4 linked regions of the Homo sapiens genome follow. The protein of the gene in region 2 purifies or fractionates together with the protein of the main gene of each other region. This does not show direct contact. Each region holds a gene or a part of one and is shown on either strand. Other genes may lie near its edges.

Evidence for each region.
Region 1: the proteins of IWS1 (region 2) and PRCC purify together in Homo sapiens (affinity purification with mass spectrometry; one large-scale study listed by BioGRID and IntAct). This does not show direct contact.
Region 3: the proteins of IWS1 (region 2) and ACTR1A purify together in Homo sapiens (affinity purification with mass spectrometry; one large-scale study listed by BioGRID and IntAct). This does not show direct contact.
Region 4: the proteins of IWS1 (region 2) and DAB2IP purify together in Homo sapiens (affinity purification with mass spectrometry; one large-scale study listed by BioGRID and IntAct). This does not show direct contact.

The regions. Positions count from the first base shown.
Region 1 is NC_000001.11:156,784,535-156,788,034, reverse strand, and holds part of PRCC (proline-rich protein PRCC), read right to left. Parts: intron 1,428-3,500; coding exon 861-1,427; intron 1-860. UniProt on the Homo sapiens protein: May regulate cell cycle progression through interaction with MAD2L2.
Region 2 is NC_000002.12:127,501,370-127,507,726, reverse strand, and holds part of IWS1 (protein IWS1 homolog), read left to right. Parts: intron 1-1,974; coding exon 1,975-3,043; intron 3,044-4,150; coding exon 4,151-4,340; intron 4,341-4,854; coding exon 4,855-4,912; intron 4,913-6,357.
Region 3 is NC_000010.11:102,477,530-102,483,878, forward strand, and holds the end of ACTR1A (alpha-centractin), read right to left. Parts: intron 5,575-6,349; coding exon 5,482-5,574; intron 4,647-5,481; coding exon 4,472-4,646; intron 4,370-4,471; coding exon 4,308-4,369; intron 3,644-4,307; coding exon 3,603-3,643; intron 3,437-3,602; coding exon 3,334-3,436; 3' UTR 1,700-3,333; downstream 1-1,699. UniProt on the Homo sapiens protein: Part of the ACTR1A/ACTB filament around which the dynactin complex is built. The dynactin multiprotein complex activates the molecular motor dynein for ultra-processive transport along microtubules.
Region 4 is NC_000009.12:121,781,671-121,787,226, reverse strand, and holds the end of DAB2IP (disabled homolog 2-interacting protein), read right to left. Parts: intron 4,897-5,556; coding exon 4,729-4,896; 3' UTR 3,692-4,728; coding exon of another isoform or gene 3,682-3,691; 3' UTR 1,697-3,681; downstream 1-1,696. UniProt on the Homo sapiens protein: Functions as a scaffold protein implicated in the regulation of a large spectrum of both general and specialized signaling pathways.

The sequences.
Region 1 (3,500 bases), on a different chromosome or scaffold from region 2:
GTGAAACCCCGTCTCTACTAAAAATACAAAAATTAAATTAGCGGGCATGGTGGAATGTGCCTGTAGTCCCAGCTATTTGGGAGGCTGAGGTGGGAGAGTTGCTTGAACCTGGGAGGCGGAGGTTGCAGTGAGTCAAGATCGTGCCACTGCACTCCAGCCTGGGCAACAGAGCAAGACTCCGTCTCAAAAAATATAAAATACAAATACAAAAATTAGCTGGGCATGTTAGGGTGGCACACATCTGTAGTCCCAGCTACTCGGGAGGCTGAGGCAGGAGAATCACTTGAACTCGGGAGGCAGAGGTTGCAGCTGAGCCAAGATTGTGCCACTGCACTCCAGCCTGGGCAACAGAGTGAGATTCCTTCTCCAAAAAAAAAAAAAAAAGGCCAAAAACCTACCTATCAGGTACTATGCTCATCACCTGGGGTGACAAAATAATCTGTACACCAAACCCGTGACATGCAATTTACCCATGTAACAAACCTGTACATGTACCTCCTGAACCTAAAATAAAGGTTAGGAAGAAAAAAAAACAGATATATATATATATATATATATATATATATATATATATATATATATATCAATCACAAATATGTACAAATATTATGGATCAATAAAAAATAAATAGATTGTTTTCAGAATAAAGATGTCATTTATGTGGTTCACCCTGTCACACTTTAAGACTTGGGCAATTTAGATTAATATGGTTCAGAATAAAGGTATGTTCTGTGGCCTAATAAATAGAGAAGGTTAATTTAGCCAAAGTGACACCACAGAGGCTGTATCACTAGCTCAAAGCTCTCCTTGACCACCATGTTCCAACATTCCCTCGCCTGCCCTCTGTGCCTCCTACCCACCTGATAATAAGCACCAGCGGCATTGGCATCGCCATATGTGGAAAACTGATTGTAGCTGTAGTCGTCCCCAGGCTTAGGCATCCAAGGGGCCCCACTTGAACCTGCTGCCATCTTGAATTCAAGGGGGGCATTGGCTGCATCGTCCTGGAAAGCCGGCTCTGGTTCCGTGCCTGGAGGCAGCTCTTCAGGGACAGTGGGGATGGGGTAAGGGTATGGCTCAACTCCAGGTGGCTCAGCCTTTTCAGGGAGGGAGAAAAAGTTTTCGGGGGCTACTTCCTCATCACTGTCGTCTTCTTCCTGCGTGATCTGCTTTGTCACCTGCAGGGCAGCACTCTTGGCAGCAGCCTTGATAGCAGAGGGCGACGGAGTGGTGGTTGTGGTGCCCACAACAGGGGCAAGAGAGGAAGTCTTGGTCTTAGAAGCCAGTCTGGAGGGCTTAGTATCAGGGGAGCCATCCGAGGGTTTGCGGGAGAAGGCATGGGGCAGGAGCAACCTGTTAGTCTCTTTCACAGTCAGGTTTTTAGGTTGGGGAAGCAAGGCAGACAAACCAGTCCCCTCACTGGATCCCTGGTGAGCCCAGGTGTGGGATAGGAGGAAAGAAAGATGACAAGTGAGATTTTATGTACTAGCAACACCAAAAACAACAGTTACAGATAAGTTCTCTAGCCTAAAATCTTACCAGCCCTTGTTTCTTCCTTACCTCCGTCCACTCAGACCACCTAATCTGGGCTTGACTCCTGCTACTTCAGGCCTTTCTGCGGGCTGCTTCTCCCAAGGTGAGGTATCATTCCTCTTCTCTTCCATCCCAACCCAGCTCCACTGCCCTCTTCCACAGAGCGAGCCTTCCTCAACTCTGTGTCTTCAACAAATACGATGCTCTTAACCTCACATCGTCCTTCCTCCCCAAAAGCCCAGGTCTCTCCAGCTCATCACTCAACCTCTCTCCGTGTCCTGAAGGGACCTCTTAACACAAGAACCCTCTCCTTCCTTTGGAATGCTACCCAAAATCAAGAACAAGGTTCTGTCTAAAAGAAACATTCATACTGTTGCAAAAGTCCCTTCCCGGCTGGGCAGTGGTGGCTCACGCCTGTAATCCCAGCACTTTGGGAGACCAAGGTGGGCGGATCATGAGGTCAGGAGTTTGAGACCAGCCTGACCAACATACTGAAGGCCCGTCTCTATTAAAAATACAAAAATTAGCCAGGCATGGTGGTGGGTGCCTGTAATCTCAGCTACTTGGGAGGCTGAGGCAGAAGAATCGCTTGAACCCAGGAAGCGGAGGTTGCAGTGAGCCGAGATCATGCCACTGTACTCCAGCTTGGGTGACAGAGTGAGACCCCTTCTCAAAAAAAAAAAAAAGTCCCTTCCCCTGACCAAGGGAGAAAGCTAACCCTGAGCGAGACCCCTCAGCAGCGCTAATGACGCCTAGGAAAGAGTGGAGGCCCAGCACGTTCAACAAGGAAGCAGTGAGTCCAGAGACTGCAAGGGGCCTGACACAGCTTTTTCCAACCCTTTAAATTGCTCTCCTTGTCACCATCCCCAAAGCAAAGGAAACAGGATTTCCTTTCTCTTTTTTTTCCCCCCCTTAGATAGGAACCTGAAGCCTCAGCTTGGGTGGGGCAGCTCCCTTAGGACTTAAGTGCTAAGGGTATTTTTTTTTTTTGGTCGGAGTCTCGCTCTATCACCCAGGATGGAGTGCAGTGACATGATCTTGGCTCACTGCAACCTCCGCCTCCCAGGTTCAAGCAATTCTCTGCCTCAGCCTCCCGAGTAGCTGGGATTATAGGTGCTCACCACCACGCATGCCTGGCTAATTTTTGTATTTTTAGTAGAGACGGGGTTTTACCATCTTGGCCAGGCTGGTCTTCAACACCTGACCTTATGATCCACCCACCTCGGCCTCCCAAAGTGCTGGGATTACAGGCATGAGCCACAGCGCCCGGCCTAAGGGTATTTTTTACTTAAGACCATAGAATTCTACATTAGCTGACTGAAAGGGTTTTTATAAGATCATCTTCAGTTCTTTTCAGACTTACTCAGCTTGCAAATTTCCCTAATCTAAGACATTACTGCTTTTTACAAAAATATGTAATTTTAGTATCTTTAGTGCCATCATACATACAGAGGTAGTTTTGTCAGCCAGAAATGAGTGTATATATATATATGCTGTATTTTTTTAATCTGAAGAAAGTCCCCTACCCTACCCAAGGAAAGCCCTATAGATGTGGCATATTAGCTTGTTAATGCCAGAGTCAAGCATTTAACTTTTGATCTGTAAGCTCACTGGCCCAGCCCATCCAGAGTTCCTATTACCCAAAAGAATCTCTCAGATTCTGCTTTCTCTATGCTAAAAGGCCCGTTTGGCCTAACTGTAGAGCTAAGGGAAATGCCAATTGGAAAAGGAGAATGGAATAAGGTCACTGTGTCACTGTCTTAGAGTACTAGTGTACTCCAGCCTTCTCAGCCAAGAAATGCCCAGAGTAAATAAGACATTTGAGTCAAGCCACACAGAACTGCTCATGTGGAGACTGGGCTCTTCTTGCTGTGTGTGTGTTCACAGATTTGGTCCAGCCTGGAAGCGCCCAGAGGCTCCGGTTCATAGGAACCACACTGAGGTACAGGGCGGAGCACACCCTCAGG
Region 2 (6,357 bases):
CTGAGGATACCTCAGGAAAACAAACCAAAATATGTCTGCCTTCCTAGAGCTTACAATCTAGATAGTTAAATTTTCCATCTGCATTCTTTTAAATTATGAAGTGTGGCTAAAGTAAACTTTAGGCAACATACAGACTATTGTACGGTAATTGTAAGATTCTATGATATCTCTCAAGTCCTAATACCGTTTTAATAGATAAGTGCCTGTTTCAGTGGGATAATAGAGCTTGTGACTGACAAGGAATCTAATACAGTACTGTGTTGAGTGCCCAGTGAGAACTCAAGAAAAATGTATTTAGGAATTTTGAAAAGTGTATGATTTTGGAAACTTACCTGAATGTGCTATATTTCAGTGACTGTGTATAGCAATGACTCTTTGCAATGCTGTGCTGTCATAATGGTGATAAAATATTTAAAAACTCTTCAAACATTGGCTTTGTAGGCTATTTTATAATTTTTCATATTCTTTTTGAATTTGTAGACACAGCATACTTGGGTTAGTAAAAGTTTGGGTTTTATGAGAACATTTTCAAGCCATTTATCTTGTCATTGACAAGAATAATCTTGTCACTTAACTGTTTCATAGCATGATGTTGGGCATATATATTATTAAAGGCTCTTTGGTCCTTGAAAATTGGTCTGTGGTAGGTTCACATAGCTTAAGTCATATATCTAACAAGAAATATTTGGCTCAGTAAATTTTTAAGAGGGTATACTCAAACACGGAAATACTTTCACTTTTTAAGCTAGAATATTATTGCCATGTTATTTAAAGTTGAGCTACCAGATGGGAGAAAAAATTCACCGGATCCTAAAATACTTGTTAGTATTTTGGCATGTTTAATTTTGTATATTTTTCTCTGCATTTTAAAGCCATAGCTATAATATGCACATATCAAGTTTGTACCCCAGGGCATGTTTTCAGAGTAATTATTTCAAGTAACATTATGTGTTGGTATAGTTAGATGAATCATGTTCTCCCTAAAACTTAAGCTTTCTTGTTTCTAGGGTTACTAGACACAGGACCGTGACTACTGTAAGCCTCAATTTTGTTATCATGAGAAGTACCATTATGAGGAGTAAATGAACTAACAGGAGAGAGCCTGTTGTGGTATTGGCTCTTAGTGGGTACTTAGGAAATGTTAACTTCTCCTTTCTTTGTTTGCTTAAATTATCTTGGGAGAAGGTGCCCATATGTTATTTGACCCTTTAAATAAAATTAAATTTTATAGTTCTTTTCCCTTAAATAATCTTAACCTTATAAAACCCAAGAATGTTCCTGTGTAAAAGAACTTGGTTACATGTTTGCTTGTATTTCTTTGAAAAATAGAGTTATTTATTTTTATTTATTTATTTTTATTTTTGACAGTCTCACTCTGTCACCCAGGCTGGAGTGCGATGGTGCAATCTCAGCTCACTGCAACCTCCGCCTCCCAGGTTCAAGTGATTCTCCTGCCTCAGCCTCCCTAGTAGCTGGGATTACAGGTGTCCACCACCACGCCCAGCTAATTTTTGTATTTTTAATAGAGACAGGGTTTCACCATGTTGGCCGGGCTGGTCTCGAACTCCTGACCTCAGGTGATCCACCACCTCGGCCTCCCAAAAGGTGTGAGCCACCTTGTCCAGCCTAGAGTTATATTTTTACAAAACAGAAGTATGTATGAGAAAATTCGCCTTTTAAAAAAGAAAAAATCTAGCTCTTCACGGTCAGTTTTCTGTAGTAATCTGAGGGCATGCTTTACAAATCTGTTTTGATGAAGGCTGGTTATATTTCCCCATTTGGGGATCCAAATAAAACCATTTCACTGATTGGCTTTCTGTGGGGGTGTTTCTATATGGGTATAGGACAAGAATTCTCCATTTAGGTGCACATAATCCTGTATTTTAAAAAAATCACAGAAAAAATTTAATGTTTTATTATTAATGGTTTTTTTTTTTTTGCACTTTCCTAATTTTTTCTCACTTTATTTTTCAGAATGAAACTAGTGATCGAGAAGATGGCCTCCCCAAAGGACATCATGTGACAGACTCTGAGAACGATGAGCCCTTAAATCTTAATGCTAGTGACTCTGAAAGTGAGGAGCTTCACAGGCAAAAGGACAGCGACTCTGAATCTGAGGAACGTGCAGAGCCTCCTGCAAGCGATTCTGAAAATGAGGATGTCAATCAGCATGGGAGCGACTCTGAGAGTGAAGAGACCAGGAAATTACCTGGTAGTGACTCTGAAAATGAGGAACTTCTTAATGGGCATGCAAGTGACTCAGAAAACGAAGATGTTGGGAAGCATCCCGCCAGTGATTCTGAGATTGAGGAGCTCCAGAAGAGTCCTGCTAGTGACTCTGAAACAGAAGATGCTCTAAAACCTCAAATCAGTGACTCTGAGAGTGAGGAACCCCCAAGGCACCAAGCCAGTGACTCCGAAAATGAGGAGCCTCCCAAACCTCGAATGAGTGATTCTGAAAGTGAGGAGCTTCCTAAACCTCAGGTCAGTGATTCAGAAAGTGAGGAACCCCCAAGGCACCAGGCCAGTGACTCTGAAAATGAGGAGCTTCCCAAACCTCGTATCAGTGACTCAGAAAGTGAGGACCCTCCGAGGCACCAGGCCAGTGACTCAGAAAATGAAGAGCTTCCCAAACCCCGAATCAGTGATTCGGAAAGTGAGGATCCCCCAAGGAACCAGGCCAGTGATTCGGAAAATGAGGAGCTACCCAAACCCCGAGTCAGTGACTCTGAGAGTGAGGGGCCTCAGAAGGGGCCTGCCAGTGACTCAGAAACTGAGGATGCGTCCAGACACAAACAGAAGCCAGAGTCAGATGATGACAGCGACAGGGAGAATAAGGGAGAGGATACAGAAATGCAGAATGACTCCTTCCATTCAGACAGCCATATGGACAGAAAAAAGTTTCACAGTTCTGATAGTGAGGAGGAAGAACACAAAAAGCAAAAAATGGACAGTGATGAAGATGAAAAAGAGGGTGAGGAGGAGAAAGTAGCGAAGAGAAAAGCTGCTGTGCTTTCTGATAGTGAAGATGAAGAGAAAGCATGTAAGGAGTTACCTTGGGCTGTTTATCAATGGCTTTATTCATTGTCTAAGCTTGTAACTGTGGAACATTGTATCCTCTTGGTATGTCAGATCTGTGTTCTGTTATTCAGCTTAATATTCTAAAATATCAGTAGGACACTCATTTCCCCTGGTTATCATTAGCTAAGCTTAATAGTAAGTTTCCTTGGAGTTCTATTAGCACATATTAATCTCTGACTGCCTCAAAGTGATAAACCACATGTCAATAGGAATATAAAATACTGTTTTTTTTTTTTAAAACTGGAAGAGGTAATGTTTCAAAGAAATACGTTTACATAAAAACCCCTAACTGTATTAATTGTTAGCTGTGGGTCTCTTTGACACTTAGTTCACTAGATCCCATCCAAACAGTAACAGCTCCCACAGGTACATCTCTTCATTTGTTAAACATTGTTGAATATTCAGATACAGGGAAGCTTTGAGAGGATTCTATTTAGAGACACCATCTCTCTCCAGAGTGTTTCAGTCTCTGCTATCTAAGACTCCATTTGCACAGATAGTATTACTTGTCTACTTTTTTATGAAACTTATCTTTTTTGGAAAAGACATATTTCATTATAACCTCACAGTTCTTATAGGAGAAGGAAAAGGTACCAGACATGCTGTCAATTTGTTAAGGGAGATGAGAAATTTCAAACTGACCAGCAATGATAGAGGAACATGGAGACTATTCCTAGAAAGAAATATGTAGTCCTTTTTAGTTCAGTTACTACTAGGCAACATAGAAAGGATGCCAGTTTTGCCCATCAATCTAGTTTTAATTTTCTCGATTTCCCAAAAGGAAAGGTGGCTGCTTTTATATTGATGATATCTTTCTTCATCTTTTGGCCAGTTTTTCTTAAGCAAAATAACAGATAATTTGTAAGATGACTCTGAATGAGCCATTTAGTTATTTTAAAAATTCTAAACCATGTGTCAGGAGGCCCTCTGATTTTATTTTATTTATTTATTTATTTATTTATTTATTTATTTATTTTTGCTGTATACTGCCATCTTAAAGCACCTGTTATGCTTAGTAATACAATGGCTGTGATAAAATAAAATTAATGATGATTTTCTTTTTCAACAGCAGCAAAGAAGAGTCGTGTTGTCTCTGATGCAGATGACTCTGACAGTGATGCTGTATCAGACAAGTCAGGCAAAAGAGAGAAGACCATAGCATCTGACAGTGAGGAAGAAGCTGGGAAAGAATTGTCTGATAAGAAAAATGAAGAGAAGGATCTGTTTGGGAGTGACAGTGAGTCAGGCAATGAAGAAGAGTAAGTGACAGTATAACATGAGTTTTCAGGGGTTCTTAATTAGGCAGTAGAGAGGGGTCTGTGTTATAATACAATATGTCCTGCCTAATTGCATGTCTTTGGGGATTTAGTATTTTAGTTCCTGAACTGAACACACTACAATGTGGGTGAATCTCAGAATTCATCTCAGAATTAACATGTTAAGTGAAAGAAAGCAAAGAGGACATATATGATTCCATTTACATGAAGTTCAGTAGGCAAAATTTATCTGTGGTGTTGGAAGTCAAGGTGGCAGTTGTTTCTAGGATGTTGATATTGGGGACCAGCTAGAAGGGGCCATGAGAGGACTTTCTGGGGAGGCTACATGAGTGTATAGGGTGCTGGTTACATGAGTGTATATATTTGTTAAAACTCATTGAACTGAACACTGAAGATCTGCACATTTTACTGTACATAAATTCTATTTTTTAAAAAATGGTTCCTATGCAAATGAGGATAAAGCAAATGAATGTTTTTACATTTGTCTACTTTCTAGAAATCTTATTGCAGACATATTTGGAGAATCTGGTGATGAAGAGGAAGAAGAATTTACAGTAAGTATAAGATGGAAATATTTCCTCCTTGATTGTGCTTTTTTTTGGTGTTTTTATGGCAGTGATACCATTATAGATGATTCTAATAAGTAGGAATAAACAATTATGATGTATTCAAGATAAAAATCTAGAAGAGGGATTCAGGAAGTAAAATGAAAGCGTATATACAAAGACATAAAAGGAAGCTAATGGGCAAAATTGAATTAAGGGGGAAGGGACACTTTGAGACAAAGAAAGTCACTTTATAATGCTAAAGGGCAAGATTCACAATAATTAGGGAACTTCCGATTTTCACAGTGGCATTCTAGGTGATTTGGACTAACCCCTCTGCCAAGCACAACTAGAAAAGCTAGACAAAAATATATAGAAATCTGCTCATTATCTAGGAACAAAGTAGCAAAGAATTACTAAGCCAAGAGAAACCTAAAGTGGTAATTCAGTGTTTAGAAGTGCTTTTTCTGTGGGGGTGTTTGCCTGTCAGGCTGAGAGGCTACTCATATTTTTGACAGCCTCAAGGCTTGGGGACAAAATTTAGAGTTCGGGGCCTATTGAGGTTAGGGGGCTTTGTAAACCCCATACCCTGGATTGAGACTTCAGAGAGCAGCACCATAAGATTTAGGGGGAAATAAAATAGCCTTTGCTCAGATTTTAGGCCATCTTTGAATCTTCTGGCAGACTAGAGAATCTCAGTCTCAGAAATAAGATTACAGTGGTTTAAGTTTTTCATATGTACTTATTATACACAAAAATAACATTAAAAGGTAACAGTAATGATGACAATAGTAATAGACTTAGGGCTCTAGATATAGGAATTTTAGATACCACCTTAAATATGTTCAGGGAGATAAGAAACAAGATTCAAAATGTCAGAGCAAACAAAAAGAAGGCAAATTTGGAAAAGAACCAAGTAGAAATTTTAGAACTATAAAAATACAGTAACTGAAATTAAAAACTCGATGTACAGGTAGGTAGGTGCAAGTAGCTGGTAGTCCCAGTTACTCGGGGGGCTGAGGCTTGGGGGTAGCTGGAGCCCAGAAGTTCGAAACCAGCCAGGGTAAAATAGTGAGGCCCTGTTTGAAAAGAAAAATGGGGTGGGAGGGGGTGGGGAAAACAGAAAACTTAGTGGATGAGTTTAGCATCAGATTAGACATACTTGAAAATAAGTGAACTGGAAGATGGCTTAGAAGGAGAGATCTGGAATGAAGCTTCAAGATACAGTATTACAGAAGAAAGGAAAAGATATAGACTATACATCGAAAAGTTTTCGCAAAAATTGGAATAATGAAAGGAGAGGGAAAGTTACATGTATAGCAGAAGCAGTATTTTAAAAGGAAATGATACCTAAACCATAGATTCTCGAAGTTGTACACATTGCAAGGAAGATAAACAAAAAGAAATCTACACCTAACTACATCGTAATAAAACTGCAAGAAACCAACGAAAAT
Region 3 (6,349 bases), on a different chromosome or scaffold from region 2:
AGGCCTCAGTGCATTTCCCATGTATCACTGCTGGACATGGTAGTCAAAGAGAGAGGAGCCTCTTTTAGGCCCGAGGTTCTCAGCCTTGGGGTCCCCTGGGGAACTTAAAAAATACTGACATCTCAGTTCCATTCCTTGGGATTCTGACTTAATGTGTCTGGGGTATGGCCTGGGCAGTAGGATTTTGAACATCTCTGTAGGTGATTTTATCATGCAGCTGGCACTGAAAACCATGACTCTCAGCCACCATTTCTCAACCTTGGCACTAGCACTGGAGATATTTGGGGCCAGATTGTTCTCTGTTGTAGACATTTAGCACCCCCCACCCCACCCCACACACACACCAGTTGCGACAAACAAATACATCTCCAGGCATTGCCAGATGTGTCCTGGGAGGCAAAATTGGTTCCAATTGGGAACCACTGCTCTAGGCCAATGGTTTTTTACAGGCTGCATGGTGATTAAAAATGTAGGCTGTAGGTTCTATGGCCTGGGTTTACATTCGGGATTAAGAAAGGCCAGCGCTGGGCACGGTGGCTCACACCTGTAATCCCAGCACTTTGGGAGGCCGAGGCAGGCAGATCACCTGAGGTCAGAAGTTCGAGACTAGCTTGGCCAACATGGTCAAACCCCATCTTTATTAAAAATATGAAAATTAGCTGGGCACAGTGGCAGGCACCTGTAATCCCAGATACTTGGGAGGCTGAGGCAGGAGAATTGCTTGAACCCAGGAGGCAGAGGTTGCAGTGAGCGGAGATTGAGATTGTGCCTCTGTACTCTAGCCTGGTGACAAAGTGAGACATGATCTCAAAAAAAAAAAAAAAAAAAAAAAAAGGCAGAACTTTGGAAAATTGCTTAATCTTTCTGTGGCTCCAAATCCTTATCTGTAAAATGGACAACAAAAGCACGTATATTTTGTAAGGTTATTGGGAAGATTAAATAGTTACCATTTGGCAAAGACCTGGCAATTTTCCTCCCAAGTGCAGGTTTTAAACGGAGAAGTGATTAATCAGGATATCTGAGTATGGGCCCTGGAAACTGCACTGTAATAAGCTCCTGGCCTTCTTCTTTTTTTTTTTTTTTTTTTTGAGACAGAGTCTTACTCTGTCGCCCAGGCTGGTGCGATCTCAGCTCACTGCAACCTCTACTGCCCGGGTTCAAGCGATTCTCCTGCGTCAGCCTCCTGAGTAGCTGGGATTACAGGCGCCTGCCACCACGCCCGGCTAATTTTTGTAGTTTTTAGTAGAGACGGGATCTCACCATCTTGGCCAGGCTGGTCTTGAACTCCTGACCTTATGATGCACTTGCCTTGGCCTCCCAAAGTGCTGGGATTACAGGTGTGGCGTGAGCCACCGTGCCCGGCCAAGCTCCTGGCCTTCTTATTCACTTGACAGTTTTGAGAATCTTTGATTTCAGGGATGTTGAGAGCTGCTCCTGTCATCTGGAGTTGAGTCTCACCCATGGGCTACAGTGTACACAGGAGTGGGACCTTCTGTTCTTGAACTTAGGCTGTGGTGTGATCACCCTTTTCTCTGCATCCACCTGACAGGCTGGGACTTGGGCTATGCTCTGGACAAGGCTGGCTGGTGCAATGATGCCCTCTAGAGGATGGATCAGGCCCAGTCACCACCTCAGATTCAGTGCCTGCTGCTCTTCCTCTTTCCACTTGGCCCTGGTGACAGACAGATAGAGGCCCAGCTGACGTGTCTATCGGAACGACTTTATTTCAGTACACTGGGCCCCACCAGGCAATGTGGTTTGTGCGAGGCTGTGCGAGGGACAGGCTTGGGCTAAGAGAAGGGAGGTGAGTTGGTTAAGCGCACTGCAGTCCGCGGGGCGCTACGTTGCTTTCACACATACCTGCTGCTGTGGCCCACACCTGGCAGGGGCCTTTGGTCATAGGACGGCGTGGGGGAGAATACTGTGTGAAGTCTGGGATTGGGGTGGGTCTTGGTGTCACAGGTGAGGGTGCCGGTGAAGACAGGCTGGCCCCAGCTTTGCACCATCTAGGCTGAAGGCCTTTGGACCACTCCTAGGAGTCAGGCCTGGCTCCATTAGCTCCTGGCACTCTGGTCTGGCCCACTCCCTCCTTAACCAAGCAGGTCCAAGGTCAAGAATGGCACAAGATCAGCCCAGAGGGGGCCTTCCCACCTCTACAACCTAGTCCCCTGGTCAGCTACAGTGGCAAAAGGCAACTTGGTAAATTGCAGCTTTCTCCAGTCTTAAGGGCACTGGCTCTCCAACACCCCTCCCTTGCTTAGGGGCCTCTGCCAAAGAAAAATTTTACCTCCTGTTTCAGAAAATCTAACCAGCAACCAGCCTGTTGATTCCAGGGCAGTGAGCAAGAGGAAAAGGGAGAAAGAGCCTGGTGGGAGTGTCTTTGAGTGTAGCTTCCAATCTCAAATGGTCCTGGAACCTGTGGACACTGTCAGCTCACCATCAGCTGGGAGAGGTGGGGCCCTGGAGGCTAAGCTTAGGTGCTGTAAACATTAGTGTAGCAAGGCAGGAGGCAGCAAGCTCCCTCTCTCCAGCCCCTAACTGAACAAACACTTCAATAAATAAAACGGTTTGAAGATGGCATTGCAACAAGAACAGATGGAAAGCGAGGTCCTGGAACCAGCAGGTGCCTTAAACTCTCCCAAGGCCCCCGAAAGGGGACTGGGCTGGGAACATTAACTCTGCAGCCATTCAGAGTGAGGACTGCTCCTGCCCTCCTCCAGTGGCCGGTGTGGTCCTGTTCCCTGGTGAACATGAGGGCCTCCTGCTCTCTCCTGACTCCAGTCTCTGTAATAGCTCTTGGGGTGCTTTTCCAGCCTCCCAAACCAAAATGGCAACAAAACCAGACAGAACTCAACCCCAGTCCCAGTCCTCAGTGTGCAGTCAGGAGGCATCGATAGTGGAGGCAGCAGCTGCCTGGGGCCTCAGGGCACCCTGGGGGTGGGGGTGAGGGTGGGGCCAGCCCAGCCTAGGATGGTCAGCAGCAAGGTCTCCCGGGGGATGGCTTACCTCCCTCTGTCTCCCTGTGGTAGTAAACGGAGTCCCCCACAGCCAGCCAGAGGCCACCTGAGGAGGGAGCACAGCCTCTGCCAGCGCTCTTCCCTGTCAGGAGCCAGTTAGTGGTCAACCCCAGGCCTCAGGCCATCACCACTGCAGGTAGTTCATCGTCCTTTCTGGGCCCAGGGTCCCAGGGCCACACGGCACTCGCATGTGCACACACACTCATATCCACACACGCACTCACACACAGGCAGTTCCTCGCAAACACTCCGACTCAAGAAAGCGAGTTTTAAAGTGGAGTTAACTTCAGAGAGAGGTGAAGATGATGTCCCGACATTAGAAGGTTTTTCTGTGGATGGATCGGGCACCGTCTTCCTCATATTCCTTTTTGGAGACCCACATCTTCTTAAAGGTGTCCAGGGAGGCAAGGATGGAGCCCCTGGAGGGAGGAAACCCAGAGGAACTGTGTGAGAGAGAAGTGGCTGTGTGTGGAGCCTACCAGTCCCCTGGGGCCAAACCAAATCAGGCTTTTCTTTAGAGGGTGCTGAGGGGTTATCAGTGCCATCACTTCCTGTTCTGTTCTTACTCCTGGAAGAGCTACTCACCCAATCCACGTGGAATACAGTCTCTCCTGAGGTGCAGATATCTGCAAAGGTGGGGGAAAGAGGAATCTGAGACTTCCAGCCCTCCCGCTCCCTTTCCCTACAATGCTCCTCTTTCTGCCCATGGCAGGGGATACATTTTACACAAGCCTGAAGCTCTGGCCTCTCTGGAGGGCACTGTGGCCAGCCTGCCACTCATCTGGGGAAGCAGGTTTCCAGTCCCCACAGGTCCCAGGGAAGCTGGGACTATTGGGGGGGGCAGGGAGAAGCAGACTCCATGGCAAGAACTGTACTCCTTCCTTTAGGATCCCCGCTCTCCTCAGACAGCCAACCTCCTTCACCTATCACTAAGGTGTCAGACTGTGTGACAGGGGAGCCACCTGGGCAGGGGGCACAGCAACAGTAAGTCAGTCTCCTCTTAAGATTATAGTTTCCCTGAAAGATCACGCAGGGGGCCCTCTACCTAGTACCCTGCCTCATCTGGGTATTAGAACTGCCTGCCTTTGGTGTGAAGAGGGAGAATGAGAACTCAGCCTCCCTGTGGCTGACCTAGACCTCAGGGTCAGTGTACAGGCTGGGAACCTGGCGCTGCTTGTAGAGCCATGGCTGCTTGAAGAGCTTGGGCAAAGCTAGAGGGAAGCTACGCCAGGTGGCACTCTGTCCATGGAAGCCTAGTTCCACCCAGGCCAGGCCCCACCATGCTCCTACCCTGATCTTCACATCTTTTGGAGCTAGTTTCTTCACTTCACTCAGGAGCCTGTCACCAAAACCTGAATGGGCAAAGAGGAGAACTTCAAGTCAATTCTCAGGGTGCCTGGAGCCAGCAGGAGCTGAACACTTCCAGGGGAAGGGCTCCAAGAGAAGAGACAAACCTTTGAACAGGGTAGAGCCTCCTGAGAGGACAATGTTAGAGAAAAGCGTGCGCCGCAGGTCCATGTCTGACTTCTGAATGGCGAACACCAGGACCTCGTGGATGCCTTCACTCTCCTCTCCAATCAAATCTGGCCTGAAGAGCAACTCAGGGGCCCGGAATCGGGAAGGACCAATCTGCAGGTAGGAGGGCCAGCTGAAGAGGTCGGAGCTGGGACCAAGGTCCCTTTGGGAGTGGGAATGGAAGACGCCCCTCTGCACGTCACTTAGTAACTGGGTGGCTATGAAGGCCAGGCTCAAGACAGACTCTACATGTCAAGGGCTTAAAGGAACAAAGATAGGCCTCCTGGAAACTAGTGAGGGGAGGCTCCTATATTTCCTTCTCGCTCTGGCATTTTCCAGCCAAGAGGTCTTTGGCATCAGTACATGGATTTATTTGCTCATGGAAACGTCTTCCTAGCAATGGGGGTTCAAGGGAGTGGTAACTCACCCTACACTGCACCCAGGTGTGGTGAAGGATGGCACTAACCATCCCACTTCCTAATCTCATACTGATGTGGGACAATCCCTTAGGAGCTTCCTCCCCTCTAGCGGGAGGGAGCAAAGTTCTGGCTGCCTCCTCTGCAGGAGACAGGGCCACTCATGCTCAGGAGCTCTGCTGCTCCAGAGAGAGGGTGTAAGGCTGGGGTGTCCAGTCTTTTGGCTTCCCTGGGCCACATTGGAAGAAGAATTGTCTTGGGCCACACATAATATACACTAACACTAATGACAGCTGCTGAGCTAAAAAAAAAAATTGCAAAAGAATCTCATAATGTTTTAAGAAAGTTTACGACTTTGTGTTGGGCCTTACTGAAAGCCATCCTGGGCCACGTGCAGCCCATGGGCCAGGGGTTGGACAAGCTTGGTGTAAAGGGACTGGCCTGCCAGACTCCAGACCCTGATGGAGAATTCTGGTTGGGCCCAGAGCTTTTGTGGACCTAAGGGGACCGAAGAAAGAAGGCAGGCCACCTACCTCAATGGTGCTGCCATCAGGCAGGTAGTACTGAGCTTTCTCTGTCTCTAGCGTCTCATCCTTTTGGGGGTTTATGGATAGGTAACAGGCTCTCTGCAGATCCAAGCAAGACAGTCAGGCTGGCAGGAAATCTGGTGCACATCCAGTCAAAGGCCCAGGGGAGGAATGTGCTGCTGCACAAACCTGTCTAAACGTTGTGATGGCCCCAATGGTCACTATAGCTGCTGCCCAGAAGCAGGGGCAGTGAGGTCTCTGTTGGCCTTCACTGGGTGGCATTTAGCATATGAGTTCTTAACCGCTCCACCTTCCTGATGGGCAAGCTTGGAAACTTGGCCCCTGGATCCTAGGTCTGAGACCACAACCTAAGTTCAGCCCAGGCCCAGGCATCTTTCTCCTTCTACCACTCATATGGTTCTGGTCCTACCCAGCTCGAGTTTTCCCTATAGCCACAGGTGGCAGGAGGTTTCAGTTTACTTACAAAGACAAATGTTTTAAATGTATTATGACTTCTTCAAGGATGTTAAAAAAATAAAAATAAAAAAACCAGGAGTGGGCGCGGTAGCTCATGCTGCAATTCTAGCACTTTGGGAGGCTGAGGCGGGCAGATCACTTGTGGTCAGGAGTTTGAGACCAGCCTGATCAACATGGTGAAACCATGTCTCTGCTAAAAATACAAAAATTAGTGGGGTGTGGTGGCAGGCACCTATAATCCCAGCTACTTGGGAGGCTGAGGCAGGATTCAAGCGATTGCTTGAACCCGGGAGGCAGAGGTTACAGTGAGCCGAGATCACACCATTGCACTGCAGCCTGGGCGACAGAGCGAGACTCCATCTCAGAAACAAAACAAAATGAAACAAAACCAAACCCT
Region 4 (5,556 bases), on a different chromosome or scaffold from region 2:
AGAGCGGGGTGGGGGCGGGGGAGGCTGGAGGTTTAGAGGCCACGGAGGCAGCAAGAGGCAGGGATGCAGGAACTGGCTAGGGGCTGCCTTGGGAAGAAACAGGTTGCCTCCTCTCCTGCCGCTGCTGAGAGCTGGGGTAGCTGTGCTGGTGGTCGGCCTGAGGAGAGGGGGTGGTGGTTGGGGGGGTCACCCAGTGTGGGAGGAGGCAGGGCTCAGAGAAGGGCCAGTTGGCTGGCTGGGAGATCTGAAAAGAGGTACGAGTTTGGATTAACTGGGGTGGAGAATGAGAGAGGAAGGCCTAGCTGAGAATGGAGATGGGAACAGACCCACAGGGCAGTCAGAACTGGGGTGTTTTTTAGTTTTCTCCTGCAGTGCTTGGTGGCCTGGAGATCACGGCTGTTGGGTGGCCCCTAGGCCGAAGTGGTCAAGGAATATTGTCAAGATGGGCTGAGGAGGGAGCCCACAGGGTTTAGGCTTGGTGGGGGAAGGCAGAGAGAACACACAGGCTGGGGAGGAAAGGGGCCGGTCTGCAGACCAGTGCTGATGTGGAGGATGAGCAGGGAAGGCTTGGCAGCTGTGCCCGCTGTGAGCAGCACGGATGACACTTTCCTAGGTCAGAGGTGATAGCAGCCCAGGGTGGGCCCCAGGAGTGGCTGGCTCAAAGGGGGTCCTGGCAGGAGGCTAGAGATGGACAGCCTGAGAAGCCAGGGTGCTGGAGGGTGGGAGGTGGGACACAAGGGCCACCGGTGAGGGTGACGGTGCAGCCCTGCTCCGGTGTGTGGCTCTGCCGTACTTGCTTCCAGCTGGCTGCAGGGGCAAGAACAGGGACAGGCCCGAGGCTTCTCTCTGGGGCCCAATCCCTAGCTGGAGCCAGAGGCACCTGTCTAGGTGACAGACCCGGAGCTCCATCTGGCTTTTTGACCAGAGGTATCCTTGCCCCCAGCAGAAGCTCGGCCCAGGCAGTATCTGGTTTCTGAGGGGTTTGGGCTAGGGCTGGGACCAGGACCTGTCCCTTGGAGCGTCTGGAGTTACTGTGCACTGAAAGACCAGATCCTGAGATGCTGAAGATGCAGGGCAGGACCCAGGGCTGCAAGGTTCTCTGTACAGGTGCAGCTGAAGGGGCTTGGGGGCTGGTTATTTCCCAACAAGGGCCTGAGTTCAGCCTTGCAGGTGGGTCTGTGTTGGGAGAGCCCGAGTCTGACTTTCAAGGTGTTGAAAGCTTGGAAATGTTTAGTCCAGCCCTGCCATGACTTGCTGGGACCTGGGCCCACCTCTTCTCCCTGGTCTCTTCCCTCCCAGAGCCAGATTTCAGTGGATGAGAAAGCGCTTAATGCAGGGCCTGGCAAGAGCCAGTGTGTGCTGCAGTGAAGGTGCTGGGACCACCCTGTCTCCCAGGAGGTGGTGGGACCAGCAGACTTTTCTTCCAAACGTATCAGAGCCAGAGAAGAGCCTTTAAGAGGACAACTGCTCTACTCCCTGGTGCAGAGACCCCTCAACCCAGAGGAGGAGGGGGCAATCCCAGATCTCCCAGTGAGCCAAGCTGGCCAGACCACCACCACTGGCTTTAGGGGTATCCCCTGCCCACGAATGCCACCAGAGTGAACCAGATGCTGGGGTCCCCTTGGTAAAGGACAGTGTCCGCTCCGGACTCAGGGTCATCCCTTAACACACAGCTGAATGGAGACACGAGTCGGGCTTAAAATAGCTAAATAAATCTTTAATATTTCTAATTGCAAATGTACAGAAATTGCACAGCCACACAGAGTCTTAGAACACCAACAGCTTCCTCTGTACATTATTACATAGTTAAAAGTCGCAGCTGGAGGGAGGAGCTCCAGCCCAAACTCCAACGTTTGCATTTTTTCCTTTTCACATACTTACAAAAGAGGGGAGCTGGGACGCGGTGTGGGAGCTGGGGGGCTTTGTGGCTGAGTGTGTAGAAAAGAGAGAGGCTGTTTCCCTGGACAGTCTGGCTCCCGCAGTCGTGCGGGGCGCAGGGGGAGGTGTACCTGGGGCAGATGCTCTGGGGGACCGGGGCGTGTGGAGCTGTAGCCTCGGTCCTCCACCCCCACTTTCTGGGCAGTCGGAAAGAGTCCTCACTGACAGGAGGTTTGGCAGTTTCCATCACCCAGAACATGGAAGTTAAGCAAAAAAGTCAGTCAGGCCTCTGTGCTAGCAGGGAGGGCGTGGCTTTCTCCAGCAGAGGCTGAGTCTCGGTGACCAGGGGGCCCCGGGGCTGTTCTTCCCCAGCAGGGACTGTCCTTCCCTCCAGGGCCTCTGGCAACCCCAGCCCTGGCTGCAGGCAGGGCCCAGCTCCCGGGAACTCAGGTTCTCTGTGGCCTGGGCAGGAGCCCCCCGTTGACTGGCCCAGTGAAGGCACCCCAGTGGCCACTACTCAGACAGCAGCTGCAAAGCCAACACACAAATGCCACAGGCAGGGAAGACACCCCCCGCAGACACCAAGCCTTTTCCTCCTGCCCAATACTGTTCTCTAGATTCAGAAATAAAATAAAACCCTTGGGAGAGCAGCAGTCCCGGCCAGCCCTCGGCAGCACCAGGACCAAAGGATATGTACAACCATTAGGTGAGATAGTTACATTACAGTCAAACACCAAGAACATTTACAAAATCGGCAGACTTGCAATTAAGATAAAAATCTGTGAAGAGTCTGTACACTTTTACAGTTTTTGCACTAGGTAAATAAGGCTCTCGGCCTGAGAGCTCACCCACCCTGCAAGGGCAGCTGGCACCGGCCACAGCGGGTAGCCTCCGAGCCCGCCTGTCCAGGCCCCGGGAGCCTCCCTGTATTGCTAGGGGGGCTCTGTCCGAGGTCACTCTACGAGGCAGCGGTGGGAGGGGGCTGGGGAGAGAAGAGCAGGGCTCACTGGGCAATGGGAGGATGAGACTGGAGCCAGGCCCTGCCTGTGTGGCCACCCTGGTCTCAGGCACGAAGGCGCATGGGTGGGGACAAGACAGAAGAGTGAGACAGGAAGGGGTGGGGGCAGGGCCTCTGCTTCCACCTCCCATCTTCCTGTGGTCTGTGATCCCTGGTGGCCCAGCCCTTCCTCCACCAGCATCTGTCTCTAGCCTAACTGAATTGTAGGTTACATCTAAAAGCCCCTTCCCAGAGCAGCCACTGTCACCTGTCCCCGAGCTCAGGGTGGACGCAGTATGGCTCTGGGCCACCCCTCCAGCACATCCACCCTTCAGGTGGGGCCTCTGTGGCACATTCCAGCTGCAGGGGCAGAGGGGTGATTCCTGCAGCTCGCCCTGCCCTGGCTCTGCTGGCAAAGGCCCCACTCCCACCCTTCTTACCCAGGGCCTTTGCTCAGAATCTGCAGGGGCTGGGAACAGACAGGGGCCGAGAGAGACCCAAGCTCCTGCTCATCTGTCTTGAAAGTGGGGGAGGGGCAGATAAGCTACAGAACAGCCTAGAGCTGAGGAAAACCGGCCCCAGCTGTGGGGTGCGCCCCTCCCCTGTATGCAGCGCCTGGGTCCTTGGCCGGGGGCCGGGAAGGGTGAGGAGGAGGCCGGCCACACACACGGGGCAGGTGCAGGCTGCTGCTGTCTTGGAGAGGGAGCAAGTCTAACATCCTCCAGGGCCGCTATTTCCCATGCAGTGCGCACGCTCAACTTAAAAGGCCCCTGTGTTCCAGCAAGCGAGCAAGCGGGCTTTTGTTTCTAATGCATACTGTGAAAGGAAAAAAAATCACAGTTATCCACCTTCTCAGGGCCTGCAGGCGTTAGAATCTTTTTTTAAACCATCACTCAGAGGAAGGATCACCTTTTCTTTCAGGGTGAGCACCAGGTGGCACTCCCTACAGGACCACTGTGCCCTGGGTGTGCTGGGCCCCAGGAGAAGGCAGATACAGTGCTCAGAGCCATCTGGCCAGATCCGCCCAGATCTCTGGCTTCTGGGAGCCCTAGAGCATCAGCCTGGGCCTGTGTGGGAGGTGTGGGAAGCTGTGGGTCCTCCCCACAGGGACAAGAGCTCACAAGAAAAAGCCATGGCCCTCACTGGGTCTATCTGGCAATACAACTAAGGCAGGGAAGAAGGTAGCAGGTGGTGCTCTGGGGACAGGTTCAGAGGGGGTGGGTGGGTAGGAATCCTCAGTTCCTCACAGCCAGGAAGGTCCCAACAGGCTGCATGCAGTGGCAGGTGCTTCGGATGGAGACAGGCAGGGGACACTGACCTCCTGCTCTGTGTCCTCCTATCTTCCTGCCTGCCAACTGATCTGCCAAGTGCCAGGTCCCACATGACAGGGCCTGGCTGCCAGGGAGTCCCGGGCCCCCCAAGGAGGCGAGGGGAAGCCACAGGTGTAGGCCCCTAGCCCTTGAATCCCCCCTCCAGGAAGCCCCCTCCCTGGCACAGGTGTGGGGGGACACATGCACTCGGCCAGATCCAGGAGGACAAGGACACACCACATTCAGGAACCAACAGACATATTTTTGGCAGGCCCCCTGCCCCATCAGGCTGTCCCCACTCCCCAGCGTGCAGTCTCTTCTGCCCGCACCCCACAGGGAGCGGCTGGTGACCTCGCCTCACGCTGCTTCAGTCTCTGGTGGCTCCCTCTGCGGCCGCCTCCTGGACAGCGGCAGGGAGGGGAGGCTCGGCCTCCTGACACCCGCGCTGGGGCTGCAACCGTGGGTGCCTCCCCAGGCCGAGACCCTGCCCTTGGCCACCATAGTCCCCCTCTCCTTGGGTAGCTTCCTCCCTCCTCAGGCAGGTTAACAATTGCTGCTGTTTCTGAACTCGCCGTTCTCAGTAATCTGCAATTTGGTGGGGTTGGTGGGGGAGATGCCGTTACGGGCTTGCATGCTGTACCTCTCTTTCAGCTGGGTCAGGGCACTCATGAGGCGGGCATTGGCGGCATCCAACGAGGCAATGCGCTTCTCCTGTGGACAATGGGGATGTGAGCGGGGGTCATGGGACAGGCTCCTTAGGGCTGTGTATACCTACGACAAGCATCGGGGAAGGGGGTGGCCTGGAGATGAGGGTGGCAGGCAGGCTCCGGGCTGTGAGCAGCTGGCAAGAGAAGGTAGGCAGAGGCCTCTGCAGCATCATGGACACAGCCTCGCTGCCTGCTTATCAGCCCAAATGCAGCAGCTCTAGTGCTGTCTATGGGCTGCCTGCGGCCCCTAGGGCAGGCACCCTTGCTCACATGTGTGTGCATGACACACCAGAGGTCACAGCTCCTGGTCTGTGCAGTTTACAGCCTGAGCAAGGCCCAGCCTACTCCTGGGTGAGTGAAAGGAAAGCGGTGCAGCCCTGAGTAAAGGAGGCTGGGGCCACAGAGCCTTTCACGTCTCCCCTCAATGCAGCCCGGATGCCATAGTTGTGAACGAGAGCCCCACTGCTCCCTCTGACCAGCCTGCCTTCACTCCTACCCCCACTGCCCTCCTGGTGGCTTCCACTCTTTGGTCAGCAGTCCTGGTGAAAGACAATGCCCGCCAAGAGCCCTGGCAGGGGAGGAGCTGCCTCTCTCCTTTCACAGCCTGTCCTAGTGAGCTTGTGGCCCACTAAGACCACAGGTCTGACTTCTCAGGGCAGATTCT